Regions from separate parts of the Homo sapiens genome. Here region 2 is linked to region 1. A link means that fine-mapping ties the variant in region 1 to the expression of a gene that starts in the linked region. Tissue or cell type: whole blood. Region 1 holds a variant in brackets; the other region holds the start of a gene. All regions are shown on one strand. Distances are between the middles of the regions.

Evidence for each region. PIP is the estimated chance that this variant, and not a neighbour inherited with it, causes the effect.
Region 2: it holds the start of ATP6V1C1, and the variant in region 1 is fine-mapped to the expression of ATP6V1C1 in whole blood (TOPMed, PIP above 0.99).

What each region holds. Positions count from the first base shown.
Region 1 is chr8:103,068,882-103,079,402 of GRCh38, forward strand. It overlaps ATP6V1C1 (ATPase H+ transporting V1 subunit C1), which reads left to right. Exons shown (of 13, transcript NM_001695.5): 13 at 1-4,170. Among named protein-coding and RNA genes, the nearest start is that of LINC01181, 47 kb to the right of the region's middle. RefSeq lists an enhancer at 9,656-9,825. The variant G/T (reference allele first, on the strand shown) is at 2,677.
Region 2 is chr8:103,015,245-103,026,300 of GRCh38, forward strand. It overlaps ATP6V1C1 (ATPase H+ transporting V1 subunit C1), which reads left to right and starts at 5,839. Exons shown (of 13, transcript NM_001695.5): 1 at 5,839-5,981. It also overlaps the pseudogene NPM1P52. RefSeq lists an enhancer at 6,069-6,278.

The sequences.
Region 1 (10,521 bases):
CAGTGGTCTGTATCTCAACATTTTCTTTTTAAAGGAAAAAATATATATATATAGTTTCTTTTTATTGATCAGGTCTGTAAATGTGTACTAAAAAAATCAGAGTTTATTTATAAACAAAATAGTTTATTTAAAGAGAAGGTCTCTTCCTTATTGATATCATGGTATGCATTAATTCCATTTGTTACTATTGTGCACAAAAGCCCTGTTCACAGGGGAATGGTGTAAACATTTATACTGTTTTGTTCACTGTATTTAGTAGACATAACTGTTGAATAGTTACTGAATCATGATGTAAAGAATATGTGACCATCTTCAGGTATGGGATTTCTGAACGTTTCAAATTTCAATCAATGAGCACTGTCAACACCCACAGGAGAGAATAAAATTACCTGTGCAAAGGTGTATTGTGGTGTGTGTAACTTAAGATTACAGTTCTGTTTGAGAGTTAAATGATGTCATAGCTCACTTGCTATGCTGCTTCCAGGATTTTGTTATATGCTGAGGTGTAACCATTTGTGTTGTCTGACTTTCGTATGATTTAATTGAGCCAAATTTGGGTCAGAACACAAATTTGAAGATGACTTTTCAGTATATGATGGGTATTTACATTTGAACACTAGAATTTTAGGTCTCTCAAATAATTAAGAATAGAGCCAGTTTTGAATAAAGTCTAGCAGAACTATGCAGCTTTAGTCATTTGTTTTGTCTAAGTCTGTATTTTATGTGTTGTCTTCTTAAGATCTATAATTTTGGCATTTATGTCATTTGTGACATAGTCTGAAAATAGAGACATTGTTGGCCTTTAAAATCTCAGAAATGAATGACTTAATTTAGTGTCCTGAAAGAGCTTTTAAAAGAGGATTTTGTGGCAATGTTTCTCTTACTACGTACTCACAGGTTTGCAAATGGGAAAAAAGTTTACATTTCAGTTTAGGGGCATATCTAAGCTATGCTATTCCCTTTAGAAAATTAGCCTCCAAAATCTTTTGTTTCAAAATATTATATTATTTCATAAATAATTTCAAGCAAATACAGACATCCACAATGTAGAACATGAGAGACCCCCTCCCTCAATTTCCACCTCCCAAGGGAAGTTTATGTATTTTTCTAGGCCCTTTTCTATGTCTTTACATCTCTGTCTCACACACACACACGTATACACACACACAGTTTATTTTTAATAAAATAGGATTATACCACACACATCCTGTCACTTGCTTTTTTGCTTAAGAGTATATCTAAGAGAATCCTTTGTGTCAGTGAAGCTGGAGCTACCTCATTCTTTTAACTGGCTGCGTGGCGTTCCATTGAGTGTCTGTCATCATGTGTTTAGCCGAGTGGATGGATAGTCTGCTTGTTTTTAGTTTTTGCTCTTAACAAACACTGCTGCAGTCAGCATCCTTGCACAGATTTCTTTGTATACTTGTATTAGTATTTCTGTAAGATCTGAGAAGTGGAATTTGTAGGGTCATAGGTTATGTACACTTAAGTTTTTGACACTCACTGCCAAGTCATCTGTCAGAATTCTAAACTAAAGACATGTTTGGAGTGTGGATTTATCTTCAGTTTTTCTTTGGACAAGAGGAAGCTGTGAAAGATTTTGCTATCAGAAAATTTTGGTTCTTTGTCTTTTGCACATGTTCTTTGAGTCTTAGTATCTGTAACGTGGCGCTACTCTCTCTATCATGGGGGGGCATGTTTTGACATTAAATTGACTTTTAAGAAAAACATGTCACTAACCTGAAGCTCAGCCACACAGTGACTTTTAAGGTTTTATTTAGACTTTACTGTTGTTCTCATGAGAGTAGGTACAGACTGCATAAGGTTTAGAATCCCAGCATATGTCTGAAACGACGGGACTTTCACTGTGATTTCCACCAGAGAAATTATAGCAGAGTGGCTGAGCATGTGCTCTGAGGCCAGGCCCCAGCTCTGCTGCTGACGAGCTGTGTGGTCCTGGGCAGAGTGGTCTCCGAGTTCCAGTCCCTCCTCTGTAAAATGGGCATGATTAGAGTGCCCACCGCATTAGGGATGTTGGGGTGAGTCAGTGTGACCCCACGTGCACAGAAAGTGCTGCGAGTGGTGCATGGTGAGAGGTTGATGCAGGTACTTAGCCCTTGGGGAACACAGGTAGTTCCTTTTCACTGTGTTTAATTTGGGAAAATCCAGATCCACATCATTGTAGAGTCTGAGGGTTAGAAGGAAGTCATTGTGTCTAACATAACAACAGAGCAGTTTGTGTCACTGAGCTCCAGTCTGTGCTGGATTATTGATATTGTTGGTGGCGGTCACCATTCCTGGAAAGGGACTGTCCCAAGCCACTTACCTTCCCGAGGAGTCTGCTGGTTCTCCTTGAGGATAGTGCTTAGATAACAGACTCATTAAACATTTACTGAGTGTCTGTCAGGGATCATTCACATCCACATCATCCTCCCGGCCCCTCCCCGTGTTGTTCATGGAGGGAGTACTGGCGGTCCCCATTTTCATGTATGGAGACTTCAGGTGAAAGAAGTTAAGTGAATTCTTTGTTGAGTCACAAATCTTGAGCCAGTCAGAATTTGAACCTAAGATTTTTGACTGCTGGTTGTCACACTTCCCGCCCCACACTCAACTGTTGTGTGAATGAGCCAGACACATTGCTTAACCTGAGTCCGAGATGGACAATGGTATAGGAAA[G/T]ATATTCGGTATGGAGAATCAGATGTTAACTTGTGTTGCTATTTTTGTTTTGTTTTGTTTTGTTTTGTTTTTGAGACAAGGTCTTGCTCTGTCACCCAGGCTAGAGTGCAGTGGCATGATCAGGGCTTACTGCAGCCTCACCCTCGATTTCCTGGGCTCAAGCAATCCTCCCACCTCAGCCCCCAAGTAGCTGGGCCTACAGGTGCGTGCTACCACGCCTGGCCAATTTTTTAAATTTTAGCACAGATGAGGTCTCACTATGTTGCCCGGGCTGGTCTCGAACTCCTGAGCTCAAGGGATCCTCCCGCCTCAGCCTCCCAAAGTGCTGGTGTTACAGGCATAAGCCACCACGCCTGGCCTGTGTTGCTATTATATTTGGCAGGAACCCAGAGTCCAGAACATTTCATCTATGATGGGTTAGATAATGTGTCTAGTTGTTTGCATGCCAATTTCAGTAGCCTCAGTTATTCAACCTAGGAGATTTTTCTACCTCTTTACTACCCTGCTGAAGTTGCTCTTCAGCAGAAAATCTTTGTGGAACACATTCCACACTTTGAAATCTTCGTGGAACAAAAGATATTTGTGGAACCAATCTTTGTGGAACATATTCCAGCTTTTTGAATGAGTGCATATCCAGTAGTACCTTTAAAGTAACACTTTGTACATAACAAATACTCAGCAAATGTGAAACTTTATTTGCTCTTACTTCAAAATTAGTCCAAAATGTTGGAAATAAAATATAAGACATTGATCTAGATATGAGGTTTTTCTCCTTCATTCTCAGCTGTCGAAGAAATCAAAGTAGCATATGCACAAGGTTAAAAACCACATATACAAATACTATAGAACAGCTTATAATGAAAACCTTGCCTGCCTTTATAAAAAATGTGATTATCTTCTTCTGTTAATGTCAATAAAAGATGGTTTGTCCTAGAAGGTCTATAAATGGTATTATGTTCTGGAGGAAACCTAGCAAAAACTTTGCTAGTTTAGTACTTGTCTCTAAATTGATGTTCACCCATTTCAATATTGCACTTATTAATGGTCTTTATTTTTCTAGCATAGATAACAATTGATTCTTTAGATTCATATATGGAGGTAATTCTTGCTTTCTAAAGAAAGGAATATGGCACATTGGAACCATTTTATTCACCAGTGGATTTACCCTTAGAGTATTTTTAGATCTGAGCTGATGACTTGTGAGAGAAAAAGGGAACAGAGTAAAGCCATGGAAGCCATGAACAGTAAGAGACTGCCGCCTGGCATGGTTTCTTCTTCTGCAGAAGATGAAACTGAGGAGAAACAAGACAACATCCTTCATACCAGGAATGGTCAAGATAATGCAAGAAGAAAAAAGCTTTCAAACAAATCAGAAGGCAGTCAACAAACAGAAAGGGGGACATTCCTTCCCTGGCAGTTACTCAAAACTGAAATTGCTTATTGTGTACACCGGGGCTTGTACTTGGGGAATTTAATAAAAATGCTCATTACCAAGCTCCAGAGAGATGTGGTTTAAAGTCTTAAGTAGATCCAAGGAATAACCTACATTTTAAACAAATACCCAGGAGAATCAGAGGCTAGGGGTTAGTTGTAATCGGATACTACCTTTTAATGATTCTTCCTCTGAACCCTCAGATTGGGGTGTTGATTTAGAATTTGTAAGCATCTTGAGGTCTCATTCAAATAGTGATTCTTCTCTATTGACAGAGACCACACTTAATAGAATCATCATGGGTAAATCAGCTTTTTCTACTGTCACTTGAAGAAATATTCCACGTCGTTAAATCAGTAGAACTGGAGAGTTCTGTCTCAGCAGAAATTGATCAATAAAGATGTCTTTTGCCCTTGGAAGGCCATAGAATATCAAGTTGAAATTTGCAAAAACTCTAAAATGATCAAGGTCACATTTTCATCTTTTAATTGAGAACTCATTGTGGACATAATTTGTCACTGCTTGTAAAGTGTAAAAAGAAACAACCAAAACAGACTTTGAAAGAATGGTTTATATGAGGAAGCCCTCCTCCCCCCCAGAAAAGGGCTATTAAGATGAAAGTGAAAGAAGGAGTTGGAGGCAGCAAAGGTTATTGTTGATGTTGGACAAAGGAAGGAATAAACTGTATGACACCACCTTGAACTTGAAAGTCATTTGTTTTTTAACCAGAAGATGAACAGGAACTATTTAGAATATCAAATCCCAAGAGCAGCTTTCATGTATTTTGCTGTTTCCTAGGTATGTGGGTGGCCTCACCGCATAGTCCTGTGACAAATCTTAATTATTTTTTTCACCAACACAACTTGCCATATTTTATATAAACTACTTAGATACATATTTAGACTGTTTCTCAAGAGTGCTTTATAGTTGAGTACAGGTTTTATGCATTGTTAGAAGCATAAAGACGCTTGTTTTTTAAATAGAAATTGTGATTATGCAGATACCATGTTTTACCACAAGAGGGCACTCTGGTGCCATTGAAAAGCAAACAGGTAGTTTCTCCTCCCTGCATTTTTGGTTCTGACTTGTACAGTCAGTTTAGAGAAACCTACACTCTGCATTCTGGTTTGGTATATTTTGTTACAAGCGTTTATTAATATAAAGTTCTCAAAAAATGTTAGATGACTTATTTTGTGACACTCTAGCCTCTGTGTGTGTGTGTGCATAAAACCCACACATCTTTGAGCAGACCAGTGCCAGCCAGTGACAGTTTTCACTGAAGATCAAATTAAAAAGGTAAGGATATATGTATGTGTGTGCATGTGCGTGTGCATATATAATCACTGACTCAGTTGCTGAGCATGCGCTATGAACCAGGCGTGTTAGGCGCTGGGGATTTAATGCAAGCAGTCAGATGGGCACAGTGCCTACCTACCTTGATGGGGCGTGCAGCCTGGTGATCTGGTGGCAATCTTACTGGACAAAACACAAACCCGGCAGCCCTAAGTTAGGAAAAGGATTTTACTGATCTGTGAAACCCACAGTCTGAAAACAAACTGATTTAAGGGTATCTGTCCAGAAAAGTCAACCTATGTTATCAGTCAGTGGGTAAAGAATAGACACATCATTTTATCACGTTTGACCACCTAGTCGGCCTGGCTTAGCAGTGTCCAAAAGAATTTCTTATGATGATGGACATTCTATACCTGTGCTACCCAATGTGGTGCCCCTAGTCACATGTGACTGAAGATCACTTGAAATGTGGCTAGTGTGACTGAGGAACTGAATTTTTTTATCTAATTTTTTTTTGAGACAAGGTCTGGCATTGTCGCCCAGGCTGCCTTCTGGGCTCAAGCCATCCTCCCTTCTCAGCCTCCCAAGTAACTGGGACCACAGGCACATGCCACCACATCCGGCTATTTTTTTTTCCCGGTAGAGACTGCTCACCATGTTGTTTAGGCTGATCTCAAGTTCCTGAGCTCAAGCAATTGGCCTGACTTGGCCTCCCAAAGTGCTGGGATTACAGGTGAAAGCCACTGCACCTGACCAATCTTATTTAACTAATTAAATAGCTACATGTGGCTGGTGGCTACTGCGCTGGACATAGAGGTCTAGTTGGTCACACCTGGCTAATGAGCCTTTTTGACCTTGAGTTTCCAATATATCCCATATCCTTTGGCTTTTTTTGTTTGTTTTTTTATGACTGGAAGAGCCAGCCTTGCTTCTGTTTACTTTGATTGCTAGATTTAACATCCCCACAAGCCTGAGAAAAAGAGAGGAAAGGATTGCTCTTGGAATCATTGTTGGTGTGCCTCAGATTGCTACGCAGGACAGCATTCTCTTTGATCACAAAAGACAACTACATATACTTTGTGCATTGATGTGCACGAGAGTAAACTGGTTGTCATACTGAAAGACCAGAAGCTGTTTCTGATGGGAAATATTGAATCAGCAGAATTGAAAACACAGCTGTGTGGTTCTAATGGGAATATAATTTCTTCTGTCAATCAGTGCTCACTTAGTATCCATTGTGTGCAGAGCATTCACTATTCCAGCCTCTGCAGGGAGACATCAGGGAGATGCTCACCACGTGCTTTTGAATGATATTATTTGTCTTTATTGACTCTAAGAAATGTAAGAGGTTCATAAAACATTGAAGCCATTAAGGCCTTATTTGAGAAGTCTAGCAACTCACAGTTGCCCTTGGAAAGAGGCAAATAGGAAGGGGAGAGCCCTCTGTCAGACTTGTTTTCCATCGGTGACATGTGGCATGGATTTTACCTCCTACCGTTAGCTGGCCACCCTCTGCATTCAGGCTTGTGAAGCATTCTGGAGGCCCCCCCGCCCCATCCTCCACTCCCGGCTCTTCCTTTGGCATCCCCACTGGCCATATTTCTTTCCTAGTCTGTTCTGACAGCCTCCTAACTGGCCACTTGTCCCCAGTCTCTGGTCACCTTCAGCTCACCCCAGTTCTGGGACCAGAGGACTGGCAAGTCACTTCTCACAAATTCCGAATTGCTGCTCACTTGCCCTCGGGATAGAGGCTCTATTCAAACTGGACTTTCTTCCCTTTTAGAATTGGCTTCTCTATGTGTTCTCTGAAAGAAGAATATCGTTTACTGTTGTTGATTTGATGGGGGCCGCTTTGGAGGAGGAATTTAGACCATAGATGGTTCCTAGGGATGCTCCAGCAGTCTCCTCTCCTTTCCTACCTCCTCCAAGCAGGCCACATGAGCCAACTTCACATCTGTGCTCTCTCAGGATGTAAAATCGTGGGCAGACTAGCATCCCAGGGTCTGAATCATTCCTTCCTCTGTAGAAGAAGGATAATGAGGATAACACTACAGGACTATTGTGAGAATGAGGATTAAACCGCAGGTCCAAATTTTCTAGCATGGTACATGGTGCAGAGGAGGGGCTCAACATATTAACTGCTGTTGTTATTGTGTACTACCCTTTTCCATGCTGCATGATTTGTGTTTCTTTTTTGCCTACTGCCTCATATCTTATGTGAGATGAAATTAGTTCCTCTTTAACTGCATCTGTTTAGAAGGCAGATTTCCCATTAAAAACCTGCTGGCATCACATGACCAGCAAGTTCACACCAACGTGTAAACCCAAGAAAACTGAAACCATATATTCACACAAAAACCTGTACATGAAAGTTGATAACTGCATTATTCATAATAGCTAAAATTGGAAACAACCCAAGTGTGCATCAACTGATGAATGAATGGATGAACAAAATCCGGTTTATCCACACAGTGGAATATTAGCCATAAAAAGAAATGGAAGTACTGACCCACGCCACAACATGGATGAACCTAGAAGACATCGTGCCAAGTGCAAGAAGCCAGACACAAAAGGTCACAGATGACTTCATTTATGGGAAATGTCATGCATAGTCAAATAAATCGGTATAGAAAGAAGATTCGTGGTTGCCAGGAACCAGGATGGGAAGGGATTTAGTAGTGGCTGCTAATGGGTACAGGGTTTCTTTAGGGGCAATCACGTTCTGGAGTTAAGATAGTGCTGATGATCACGCAACTTTATGAATATATTAAAAATCACCGAATTGTATACTTTAGAAGGTGAATTTTGTGGTATATGAATTGTTTCTCAATTTAAAAAACCTACCGGGAATTAGCTCAGATTTTCTACAAATTCTCTTAATTCTTTGCTTATCTGTTTATATCGATAGAATTTTTAAAAATTAATTTGAATTTCCTTTTACGAATGGTAAGGAGATTTGCCCTTTGGGGTTTCACTCCGTCCAGTGCTCTTGCTGTCGATTCTGTCTGTTTGCCTTTTTTGTTGTTTTCGTTTGTCCACTCAGCATCTCAGTTGGCCTTAGCTGCAGCCGTCTGCAGCCGCCTCCTCCACTTGGGGGTTAGGTTGCACATCTGTCCCAGAGTAGCTCATCTCACTGGTTATCACATTAGCAGTCACTCATGTCAGCAGTCCCCGAAGAAAAGATAGCTGGTTGGCTGGGGATAAAGCATCTGAAACTTTGCTGGTCTGATGATATCTTTCTGTTGTTTCAGTACATGTGTCACTGACAACTTGCTTAGGTAAAAGTGCCCATAGTTCCTTCATTTGTTCAACAACCATTTACTGAGGGCAGAATCCTCATTCACTTAGTGAATACTTAGTAATTGTTGAATACCTGGGTACTAGGGCAGGAGCAGCCAAATGAGAAAAAGGACTCTGTCCACATGGAGCCTACCTGCTGGTGGACGATACACAATAAACATAGCGAACAAGGTAAGACTTTTCGCCCTCTGCACCTGTAAGGCCATTGAGGACTAACCTGGCTGGGAATGGGTAGGAAGAGCTGCTTCAGAGGGGTGTCTAGATATACCCCAGAGGATGCCAGCCATGTGAAGACCTAGGGGAAGGAAGTGTCTCATAGAGGTTGGGTAATAGAGGATCAGCGTGGCAATAGCTGAGTGAGTGAGTGAAGGGTGTGGTATGTGCAGCAGATGCACCTAGGTGGGGTCTTCAGAACATGGTGAAGAACTCAGACTTTTTTCTTCTAGCAAAGGGAACCCATTTTAGGGACTCATGTGCATGTTTCAAGGATCACTGCAGCAGTGGTCATACTTGTGTGTTTGTAGCCCCTATTTCTTACGTCGTGCTTGGCGCATTCATAGCAGGCACTGGGTTCTGGTTCAGAACTGAAGTGGATGAATGCATGGAGAATGTACTAAACCCGGAAGTGTGCCAGACTCTGCACCCGAAAGTTCTCTGCAGCTTCTCCAACTTTAAGAGTGTTCTGCAAACACACTGAATGCTTTGCCTGGATCTTCCTGTGAAGATCCAGGCAGAATTTAGTAATAGAAATTTGTAAAATTTATTCTTAAATTCTTTTGCAACTGTCTTGATTTCTTCACAAACATAGTCATCATCTGTTTATCAAATGGGCATTTTAAATAATATTTGACACATAACTGGCTGACTCCACAGCTCCAAATTAGTCACACGGTAGTCTTTTGATAATAGCCAACATGTGACAACAGGGATTTTTTGCACGAGGTGGGGAGCATTCTGGTTTCCTTTTCATTTTTCCAATATGTCATATTTCTCACTTCCACTTTTCTTAGAGGGGAGGGTTGTCTTTTTGCTTCAAACTATTATAGGCTTTTACTGAGAGACAAGAGGCTATGAGCCCCACTCAGTAGAAGAAGGGTTTAAGTCTATCATATAAATTATTGCCGCTCTAACTTCTCTCTGTCCCTGCCTCTTAAGTCATTTACGGTATTTGTTTGGGTAGCTATATTGGATTTCTTCCGTTTTTCCAGGGGAAATACAGCAACTTTGGAGAGACGTGAACATGGGAATATATGAATTGATTGCTTGAGAAGTGTTAGTGTTAGTTCTGGAATGAAGTCCTGTGTCATTAGGTGCTTACGTTGAAAGGAAATGTAGAATTTTCCATAGTCGCAGCTTTCCAGATTTTAATTGGCTGCTTGCCCTCGTGTCACTTTCTTTTCTAAAATAAATGTTTTGGATGGCTCTTATCTTTACAACCAGGCACACAGCTTCATTTCCTCCTAACTAGGAAAGTTAACTCTTCAGCTACATGGTGGTACACAATGTTGTCCCTGCTCAGCAGCCCTTGAACACTCATTAAATCCCACATTAGAGCTGCAAGGAGATAGTAACATTTATTAGGTGCCTCATTTTTTTTTTTTTTCTCTGAGAGCGGATCTCGCTCTGTTGCCCAGGCTATAGTGCAGTGGTACCATCAGGGCTCACTACAGCCTCAACCTCCCAGGCCCAAGTGGTCCTCCTGCCTCAGCCTCCTGAGTAGGTGGGACCACAGGCACACTCAGATATTTTAAAAAATTTTTGTAGAGACTATGTTGCCCGGGCTGCCATTGTTTATCCATTGATTTTTTATTTTATTTACT
Region 2 (11,056 bases), 53 kb before region 1:
GTAATAAACATATTTTGCATAAATACTTTTCTATCTTTTGCATGATTAACATTCTAATGACAGTCAAATGGAACAAACATTTTAAAGGCCTCTCATTCATACTGTTAATTGCTGACCAAAGAGTTGTACCAATTTACATTTCTACTAGTAGTGTAAGAGTCTATCTTACCACACCCTCACCAGCATTGGCTATTATGTGTATATTTCTATCTTTGCTAATATGAGTTATTTCTATTTATTTTAATATTTGTGTTTATAAAATTTTGTATTGTTCTTATTTATATTTTTGAGCACTAGTAAGAGTGAATATTCCCCGTATGTTATAGCCAATAGCACTTCTTTTTTTCTTAACTGTTTTGTGCTTTTTGCTCATTTGTCTTTTGGATGGTCTTAGTATTGTTCCTTTTTTTTTGAGACAGAGTCTTGCTCTGTCACCCAGGCTGGAGTGCAGTGTCGCTATCTTGGCTCATTGCAACCTCTGCCTCCCAGGTTCAAGCAATTCTCATCCCTCAGCCTCCTGAGTAGCTGGGATGACAGGCATACACCACCACACCTTAATAATTTTTGTATTTTTTAGTAGAGACAAGGTTTTGCAATGTTGGCCTGGCTGGTCTTAAACTCCCGGCCTCAAGTGATCCGTCTTCCTTGGCCTCCCAAAGTGCTGGGATTACAGGCATGAGCCACCGTGCTCAGCCCTTAGTATTGCTTTTATCAATTTGTTCAAGCTCTCTGTATATTATAACCTGGATAGCATATATGTCTACAAAAGAATTTTGCATAAAGGCATTTGAGCGTAGACTTTATTAAAGCTCTGGGAAGATGGCAAAGGATTTAAATCACAGCAACTGAAGTAAGCTCAAATTGAGTTCTAAATATTCCTCTTTTTATAAGTCCCTTGTCATTTGTCTTTCTCTTTTCTCTTTCTTTCCTTCTCTTCCCTATGCCTCTCTCCCATCTCTTCATTCTCCAATTTCTGTTGCTTTTCAGTGGAAACTAGCTCAAGTTATTTCTTTGGTCTTTGCCTCCATTTAACCATACTCTCAGTTTTTCTTCCACCCTAGTGGAAGATATTAGTTTATCAAGGTATTTTCTTAAACAAGGACACTTAGTTTCCTAAGGGAAATGCCAGTAACAACTTTCAAGATATCTTGACTATTATACCAGAGTGAAAAAGAGTTCTGAATCCTGTTGCCCTATTTGCTTCAAATACTTTCTCCACTTTGTTTAACTAATGGATACTAGGCTTAATACCTGGGTGATGAAATAATCTGTACAACAAACCTCCTTGACACAAGTTTACCTATGTAACAAACCTGCGCACGTACCCCTGAACTTAAAATAAAAGTTAAAAAATATTTAAAAAATTAAAAAAAGAAAACAGTAATCAAAAAACAAAATAATTGGTTGCTGGTATGATTCCATCCTGCACAGCTGTTCTCTGGAGCGTGGTTGTTTACCTCTGCCTGGCTTCTCTCCTACCTAAGTGCTTGCCGCCACCCATGGAAGATTTGACGGACATGGACATCAGCCTCCTGAGGCCCCAGAACTATCTTTTTGGTTGTGACTAGAGGCCAACAAAGATTATCACTTTAAGGTGGATAATGATGAAAATGAGCACAAGTTATCTTTAAGAATGGTCAGTTTAGGGGCTGGTAGAAAGGATGGATTTTATATTGTTGAAGCAGAAGTAATGAACTATGAAGGCAGTCCAATTAAAGTAATACTAGCAACTTTAAAAAGGTATGTACAGTCAATGGTTTATCTTGGGGGCTTTGAAATAACATTGCCTGTGGCCTTACACTCAGTGTGTTTCAGGGCCTGGGCATATGAGTACACAGCACTTAACAGGTATGAAGGAAGATACAAAGCAGGACATGAAGAGGAGGGAGATGTGAGACTTTTCAGTATATCTGGAAAGTGATCTGCCCCTGGAAGTGGGTACATTTCTACAAGAAAAAAATAAAACTTCTTGCTGATGAAAATCATGATGATGATGAAGAGGAAGAACATTTTGATGAAGGGAAAACTGAAGAAAAAGCTCTAGTGATGAAATTTATACAGGATACTCCATCCAAAAAATGCACAAAGATCAAACCAAAATAAAAAAGACTCAGAACTATCAAGATTAAGACCAAAAGGTCAAGAATCCTTCAAAAACAGGGGGAAAAAACCTCTTAAAACACCAAAAGGACCTAGTTTTGTAGAATATATTAAAAGCAAAAATGCAAGCAAGTATAGAAAAAGTTGGTTCTCTTCCCAAAGCTAAGTGCATCAATTATGTGAAGAATTACTTCTGGATGACCAACTAGGAGGCTATTCACCATCTCTGGCAGTGGAAGAAGTCTCTTTAAGAACACAGTTTAGGCCAAGCGTGGTGGCTCATGCCTGTAACCCTAGCACTTTGGGAGGCCAAGGTGGGCAGATCACTTGAGGTCAGGAGTTCAAAACCAGCCTGGCCAACATGGTGAAACCTTGTCTCTCCAAAAATAAATAAATAAATAAATAAAAATACAAAAAATTTGCCAGGCGTGGTGGTGGATGCCTGTATTCCCAGCTACTTGGGAGGCTGAGACAGGAGAATCGCTTGAACCTGGGAGGCAGAGGTTGCAGTGAGCAGAGATCACGCCATTGCATTCCAGCATGGGCAACAGAGTGAGACTCTGTCTCAAAAAAAAAAAAAAATAGTTTAAACAGCTTGTTAAAATTTTCTTTCTTCTTTTTTTTTTTAAATCTTTTAACCCAATAGTTCTTTTAGAGAAAAAAATTACCTGTCATTTCGTTAATAGTTCTTTTAGAGAAAAAAATTATCTGTCATTTCATTTCTGTAACAGTTGATATCTAACTGTCCTTTTTACAATTCAGAGTGAGAAGTTCCCTAGCACGTTGGATAAATATTGTCCAGGTTCCATTGCCAAAAATGTGTTGTCCAAAATGCCCCTGTAGTTTTTAAAGATGAAACTCCATCGTTTGCTTGTTTTTTTTTTTGAGACAGAGTCTTGCTCTGTCACTCAGGCTGGAGGGCAGTGGCACTATCTTGGCTCACTGCAGCCTCTGGCTCCCAGGCTCAAGCAATTCTCCTGCCTCAGCCTCCCAAGCAGCTGGGATTACAGGCATGCACCACCACACCCAGCTAATTTTTGTATTTTTAGTAGAGATGGCATTTTGCCATGTTGGTCAGGAAGGTGTCAAACTCCTGGCCTCAAGTGATCTGCCCACCTCAGCCTCCCAAAGTGCTGGGATTACAGGTGTGAGCCACCACGCCTGGCTCTTTGCTTGGTTTTCAGTATATATGTATGTATGGAATATTATGATAGGACATAGTAGTAGCTGTGGTCAGACAAATGGAAATGGTGGGAAGACAAAAATATGTAACTGAAATAAGCTCAATATTTTAATAAAGGAAAAAATAAATTTTTTCCCCGGAAAAAGTTGTAAGAAAAAAATAAATCTTCTCCCATGCATCTTAGGAGTGCTTTAAACTTAGATGTTTGGAGATGAGTAGTCTTTAGATAGGTGGAAATGGAGGAAAAGGTGTGACATGCCCATGGCTACCTAGTATGCTTCTATGCATAGTACAGTTTTTAAAAAGTGAGTTGCTTCTCTGTAAAAACATATTACTTTACTATTAGAAACCACTGGAGAGCAATCATGCCCTGCTTATATTAAACATCTTTGCTAGATTTTTATTTGATTTTTTGAGATGGGGTCTTGCTCTGTTGCCCAGGCTGGAGTGTATGGTGCAATTTTAGCTCACTGCAGCCTCGAACTCCTGGGCTCAAGGGGTCCTCCCACCTCAGCCTCCCGAGTAGCTGGGACTATAGGCATGCACCACCATGCCCAGCTATGTTTCCTAAATTTTTAAGTGAGATACATTAAACCTCATAAAAATTAGAGCTAACATTTATTGAACACTCTGTTGTACTGCCTCCCAAGTATAACATGGTAATTAAAACACTGGAGGCCAGGCACGATGGCTCACCCCTGTAATCCCAGCACTTTGGGAGGGCCAAGTGGGCAGATCACTTGACCTCAGGACTTGGAGACCAGCTTGGCCAACATGAGGAAAACCCGTCTCTACTAAAAATACAAAAATTAGTTGGGTGTGATGGTGCACGCCTGTAGTCCCAGCTACTTAGGAGGGCAAGGCACAAGAATCGCTTGAACCCGGGAGGTGGAGTTTGCAGTGAGCTGAGATCGCACCACTGCTCTCCAACCTGGGCGACAGGGCGAGACTCCATCTCAAAAAAAACCCCAAAACTAAAAAAAAAACCCCAAATGTTGGAAAGTTGCGCGAGGTATAATTCAGTTTAGAAATTAAGAATCCAAGACAAAAAGTCTGCCTCAGGACCACACACAAGCACGAAGAAACCAAGATAGTTCAAGCATGGACCTTAAAACTGCACTGTCTAAGGCTGTTGTCACTGGTCTCATGTGGCTATTTAAATTTTAATTAAAGTGAAATAAATTTTAAAATTCAGTTACTAAGTCACACTAACCATATTTCAAGTGCTCAATGGCTCCATGTAGCTAGTGGGTACTGTACAGACAGCACAGGATAACATTTGCATCATGGCAGAAAGTTTTAGTGGACCTAACCAAAAAAAAAATGCCTTTAGGCTCATTTCGTGATGGCAGATAAAAGCCTCTGGAATTCTGATAAGTTTCTGAAGCCATGTTATAGAACTGGTTATTGTAATTGCATGAACTTCATCCAAAACTGGTGAAAGCGTCAGGTTGGGGATAGTCTGGTGGTTGTTACTTTCTGTCCAACCTAATACTGAGGCTCTGAGAAATTCTGTGGTGAATTTCTGTAGGGGGACACAGCAGAAAAGGCATAGTATAGGTCAGAAAACCTGGGTCCTATAATACATAGTAATAATGACGACCATTTACTGGTTGTTTCCTATGTACCAGGCACTGTGCTAACCACAGGCTTCATTTAATCCTCACAATACCTGTGTAAGGTATTATTACCACCACTTTGCATGTGAACAGGCTGAAATTCAGAGGAGTAAGGTCACACAACTAGTAAGTAGGAGAGCCTGGATTCAACACCTGGTATCTATTCCCTTGCGCTGAACAACTCCGTGCCCTCACTTTCTTCATCTGTAGATCTAAAAGGATTAAATTAGAACATCTCAAAATTTCTACTACTTCTAAAACTCTGTGTTCTAAATTAGGACATTACTATCTATCTCCCCAAGCTAATGAAATAAGCAGGGTTCCTGGGAGGAGCTTGTTACCTATTTTTCTCCAAAGGAGATGCTTTCCCCTGTCTATGCCTCTGTCCTAAAACCTTTGGTTTCCCACTATCTAATGTGGTTTCAACTATCTATGAGGCGCTTTCGTGGCAAGGAGTGATTCTCTCCAGTAGGCAATCCTAAGAACGAGCGCAGTGCTTGGCGCACAGTAAATGCTCCATGGACCATTTATGAAATTAAGTCTAAGTGGACTTCAGGAAAATGTGAATCTGCTAAAATGAACTACTAGCCAGTATACTAGGTAGAAAACCCAGCTGACGAAGAAAACCCCAAGTGGAGAAGCCCTTGTAGGGGGTTGGAGACAATTTCTGACCCGCAGAAACCTGCAGTGGCGCTGACGTTTACAAGTGGTGGACAAAACGCCACTTGCAACACTGGAAGAAGCGGAAAACCCCACCCACTCTGGAACAACAGCGATCAGCCCCGAATATAGGGTCCCCTTGCCGCCCCGTAGCCTCCTAGTCCCGCCCCTCTCCCAAGGCCCGGCAGTGGCAGCGGCTGCGGCTGCGCAGTGGCGCGGGCGTAGGCGGAGCAGCGCGCGCCGCGGTCAGCTGACTGCTGGGCTGGCACGTGACTTGTTCTGTGTTCGCTTGGGTAGAGGAAGCCGTGAGGCCGGAGCTTAGGTCGGGAAGGGATGGATCGCTGAGCCGATAGCGTCCGCTAGGCTGTCTGCCTCGGTACCTGTTACTGCTGCTACTTCCTCGTTTGACACCTTCCTGGGTCAGTGAGCGATGGCTCTCCCCGGATGGGGAGTCCTGGTCAGGCCGAAGCATGAGCTCCGGTCGCTGCCTGGGAGGGACGCGGGTGGGTGCGGGGGCAGAGACCGTGGCGTTGGAGCTGGAGCTGGCTGGGTGGCTGTGTCTGGTTTCTCGGCGCCAATTCACCGTCTTGGGCCTAGGTTCCGTCTCTAAGGAAGAGAAGGAGGGAAAAAGAGAAAGAGCTCTCGTGGGTAGTTAATGACAGGCAGAAAGGAGAGATACAGCGGTCTGGGATCTTTCTTCTTGGGTAGGAATGCACGCCGCCTGATTGATTGAGGGGAATGAAGTGATAGGTCCAGGTGAGGCTATGGAGTGGTGTGTGTGAGGTCACAGCTAGCGCAAGTGCCTTCACTGGGTGTGTGTTGGGGGGGGCGCGGGTGTCGGGGGTCGGGGGTGGTGGGATGACAGTTTAAAGGCCTAGGAGCCCCTAACTGCAGGCAAGGAACCCTCACAGAGTACACAAGGTCCCTCTAGGAATGAGAAAGAACAGGAATCCAGAGAACTCAACTATTTTTTAGTAGAATGGGGGAGGGTAGGCAAACAAAACAGAACAAAACAAAACAAACCCCTAGAAAAGAACTTGGTGAGAGTCACATAAGGCATATTGAATCACTTGAGAAACAGGAGTAAGGGGGAAGCTAGTATTCTTTTCAGAGGAAAATTCTGGTATGTTAGGGAAAAATCACATGCTTCAGTGCGAGCCCAGTACTTAGCGCCGCTCTGGGAATGGAACGGGTGGGATGTGAACAGTCTATCCTTAGGAGTTAGCACTAACGTTGGAGAGAAAAGTCTACACACAGGACACGTTAAAATACGATGCAGTTTATGTATACTTACCAAAAAGAGAATGCGAAGTGCTTTGAAAGTGTGGAGCAACGACACATGTGTAAACTGGCACTATGGGAAGATATTCTGGAGGAAAGAAAACTTGAGTCTTGGCAAGCCCTCAGGATTTGAACAGGTTGAGAGAAATGGGGATAATTTTACAGGCAGGGAAAGCCACAGGATTTGAAAGCCTGAAGATGGGGGTAGGGAATGCTTCTGGTGGAGTCAGAAGTAGCTTTTACAGTGGATTGCACTGCGGAGAAGTGGGAAAGAAAGTTGGGAGTCAGGTAACGAGGACTTTTGAATGGTAGTCGTTTACTTATTCATGCAAATAATGTGTACTGAATACATGCTGTATGCAGGTACAGTGCTGATGGTAGGGTTTAGAAAATTGTCTTTATAGAGCTTACAGGCAAGCAGAGGGGATGGATTTTAAAAATCAAGCAAGCGTGAAATGTGCTTTGAAGGAATAACAGTGGTATGAAAGAGTGTAGTAGGGGCATGTGTATTATGGAAGATTTTAAAAAGGCATTGCTAAGAATATGACTTTTTAAAGATTAAAACAATTTTATTTATATTCTTCATACCCTCTCGCTCTGAGAGGGTATGACTTTTGACCTGAGATCTGAAAAGAGACTGAAAAGGGAATGTGAAGGTGTGAGTGAAAAGAACATTCCAGGCCTGGCAGGGTGGCTCGTGACTATAATCCCAACATTTTGGGAGGCTGAGGTGGGAGGATTGCCTGAGGCCAGGAGTTCAGGACCAGCCTGGGCAACATAGTGAGACCACCGTCTCTACCAAAAATAAAAAAATAACTAGCTGGGAGTGGTGGTGTGTGCTTGTAGTCCTAGCTGCTCGGGAGGCTGAGGCGAGAGGATCATTTGAGCCCAGTAGTTCGAGGCTGCAGTGAGCTGTGATCATGCCACTGCACTCCCTCCTGGGAAACAGAGCTAGACCCTGTCTCTGAAAAACGAAAAAGGAACATTTCAGGCTGAAGCAACAGCGTATGTCAAGGCCCTGAAATGTGAAGAGGAAGAAAGCTTTTCAGCCTTTTTGAAAGGCTAGCATGGCTGAAACGGGGAGGGAGAGAGGCAGGTGGAGAAAGCTGGGGTCACGCCAAGCAGAGCTTTTATTCTAAAAACAGAGGGAAGCCAGTGAAGATTACAGGCAGTGGATTGAGACAGGTTGTGGCTTTTTTTTTTTTTTTTTGGTGGGGGGGAGATAATGTGGAGGGTGGCAAAAGTGAATGAGGGGAGACCCGCTCAGGGGAACATTGTTGTAATCCACTGAAGGATTTGAAGACAAGATACCTTCTCTCTCCACTGAGGACTTCAGAATGTTTAACTGTATTCACTTTTAGAGGGTTCAGGACTTGGGGAAGGGAAAGAATGATTCGATTCTATTTGTACCCTTCACAGGGTAGTCGTAACTACCCTCGAGGCAGTCCTGAAGTACATAGCAGAGGCTCTTTTGCAAAAATTTGTTTTGGCTTTTCAAATTTATCCTTTTGTAAGGTCATCTATTTCAGAATATCTTTTATTGAAATATAGTTACAGGGAGGGATCACTTTCATATTTATTTTGTTCTCACAGTTCTTTGAAAGACAGTGGATGAAAATGCTATTCATTGTATAGATGGGAACCTGGAGCTAGAGAAACACGTAAAGTGATTTGGCTGAGTCCGGAGTAACTGCCACAGTTTTCTGACTGCTGATGTATTCCTGCTGATTACCTACACAGTACTAACCACAGTCACATCTAGAGAAAAGGGCGAGTTTTTTGAAGTGCACAGTAGTCTTTGATTCAGCATTTTTTTTTGGGGGGGGGGAACTTCTCCCTGAAGAGTCAGCACTTTTGATGAACTTTTTCTAGTAGAACAGCTTCAAAGGAATTGGCAGTGGTGGGCTATGTCTTATCTATAATCTTGGATAGAGCTGTTCAATTTACAGTTCATCTGGAGGAAATAATGAACAATAAGGTGAACTGAAAGTGCTCAGGTTGTCAATCACAGTTCTTTGGCAAAAAGTGAGTCTCAAATTATGCTGAAGACTGAGCCTCAGGGTTCTGTCTCAGAAGTCCTGGATCTTTTTCTCTTTTGGTATACCTTGTAGGGACTAGATAAAATCTAAAGAAACAGTACTCAGGATCTAACTAAATGCTGAGAGCTAGATAGTGTAATTCAGCTTTTAAAACTTGGCACAAAATACTCATTTTTATTTTTTTGGTATATTAGTCTTAGGAGCCTCATGTACATTAGTTTTTTCAACCTAAAAAGAAACTTCAGGGCTTCAAAAATCTGATTTTGTGATTATTTCCACAACTCACGAGATAATACCATTGGCCAACTGGAATGCCAAAGTAAACCTTTGCCAAAGGTCTCCATGTAGTTTACCCGTCCCTAAGCAGCAAGTCTTCTTTTGAACTTGGTTCTGCTTAGGAGTACTACAGTTTTGACTGAGTACCTCCTACTTAAAATTTTGCTCTTGTACATATTTAAATCTGTCTACAGGTTACATCTTTTTCACTCTTTGGGTGTGGAATTATATATCATTTATAAATTAATTCATGTTAGATTTCCATTTTTCATCAATTTTTAAAGACAGACATAGTATAAACATTAGCATAGTGCCCTTGGGACGCTTAGGCAGTGAACCAAGGCAGTCTAAAATTTCCTATTGACATGAGTGATTCTTGGAACTAGAAATTTCAAACTATATTCTTGATGCTGAAACAAAATTTTTTATCCAGCAGGACATCTACTTCTAAGATTATACCATGTGCAAATGTACTATGCGTTTATTGAGTTAAAAAAATGAGCCAGGTAGGCAGTGGAGGAGAGGTGCTTTGGTTACTATGCATTTATTGAGTTAAAAAATGAGCCAGGTAGGCAGTGGAGGAGAAGTGCTTTGGTTACATCGGGGATAAAAGAGTATTAACTGTATATCTAAAATGTGGGGTGTGTGTGTGTGTGTCTGTGTGAGTATGTGTGTGTATTTGAAAATAAAATGCTAGGTAAGTGATGTTTTATAGAAAGGGATCGATGGATCTTCTAAGATATTTTAAACAGACTATCAATGAATAGGAAGTTGTAAATTAAGGCGTGTTAACAGGTGGTTTAACTTTACCATGAAAGGTTTTCCTTTTGAATCAGCCCATAGTTTAGTGTTTCTATGTGGGTGCTATTGGCAGTTTGGAGGTCTGTTTCGCCCCTACCCACTAAATGCTGATTAGCGATCTCCACATTGGGACAACCCAAAATGCTCCCATACATTTCCAGACTCCTCCTGGAGGAGAGAGGCACCATTTGGTGCAAAACATGCATGTGGTGTCAGTTTATTTGTTGGACAAATATTAAGATGTTGAGGTTACAGAGGTTAAAAGTAATATTTTAATAAACTGCATATAATGGAATTCAAGTAATTTAAAATCTAGTGTTTGATGTTTTAATGTAACTCCTTTAGTGTAAAATTACTGAAACTATATCCTAATATTTCTTTGAGGCACTTGTCTTTTGTAAAACTGCATGAATAACTCAAATAGAGTCCCCTTAATCCCAATAAAATGTAGTCACTAAATGTCTTTGGGCAACTAATTTCACCAGCTGTTCCCTCATTTGCAAGTGGGGGTGGTGATAACACATCTTGTGAGGGAATTAAATACAAAATTGCTTTAGTAGATGCAAGTGCTTATCACTGGGCACAACATGTGGTACATATTCAGTGATAGTTGTTACCAGTAAACAGAATCTCAAGCTTACTTAGGGTCATGAGTTGGAGAAAACTAATCTTAAAGTCTTTAAGTTGGTGAATTTCAGGCCAAAATACATTGTATTGGAGATATCAGCACCTTCTAGCAGAATGTGGTACCGTGGTCCAGTCACTATTATAAATTGCCAGCCATGAAGAAAAGGGAAGTCATGTTTTGGGAGCCATGAGTGTAGATTCAGGGAATCCCCTGGCATGGAAGGAATTATTTGCCCACTGGGTCACCGCTGAGTTGCCTGTGCAGAGGAGGAGTCTCTAGAAGCTGAGAAGGTTTTGGTGATTACTTGCAGTAATGGGTGTACGACAGGGCCCTCCTGGCCATGTCTGCCAATTCAGTAGCTTTACCAGAAGTTACTAGAAATTTTCCAACATTGTATTATGTATTACATCCCCAGCCCCCACTCCACAATGTCACAGTGTGTTTCCAGTTTTTGTGATAGGTATCTGTG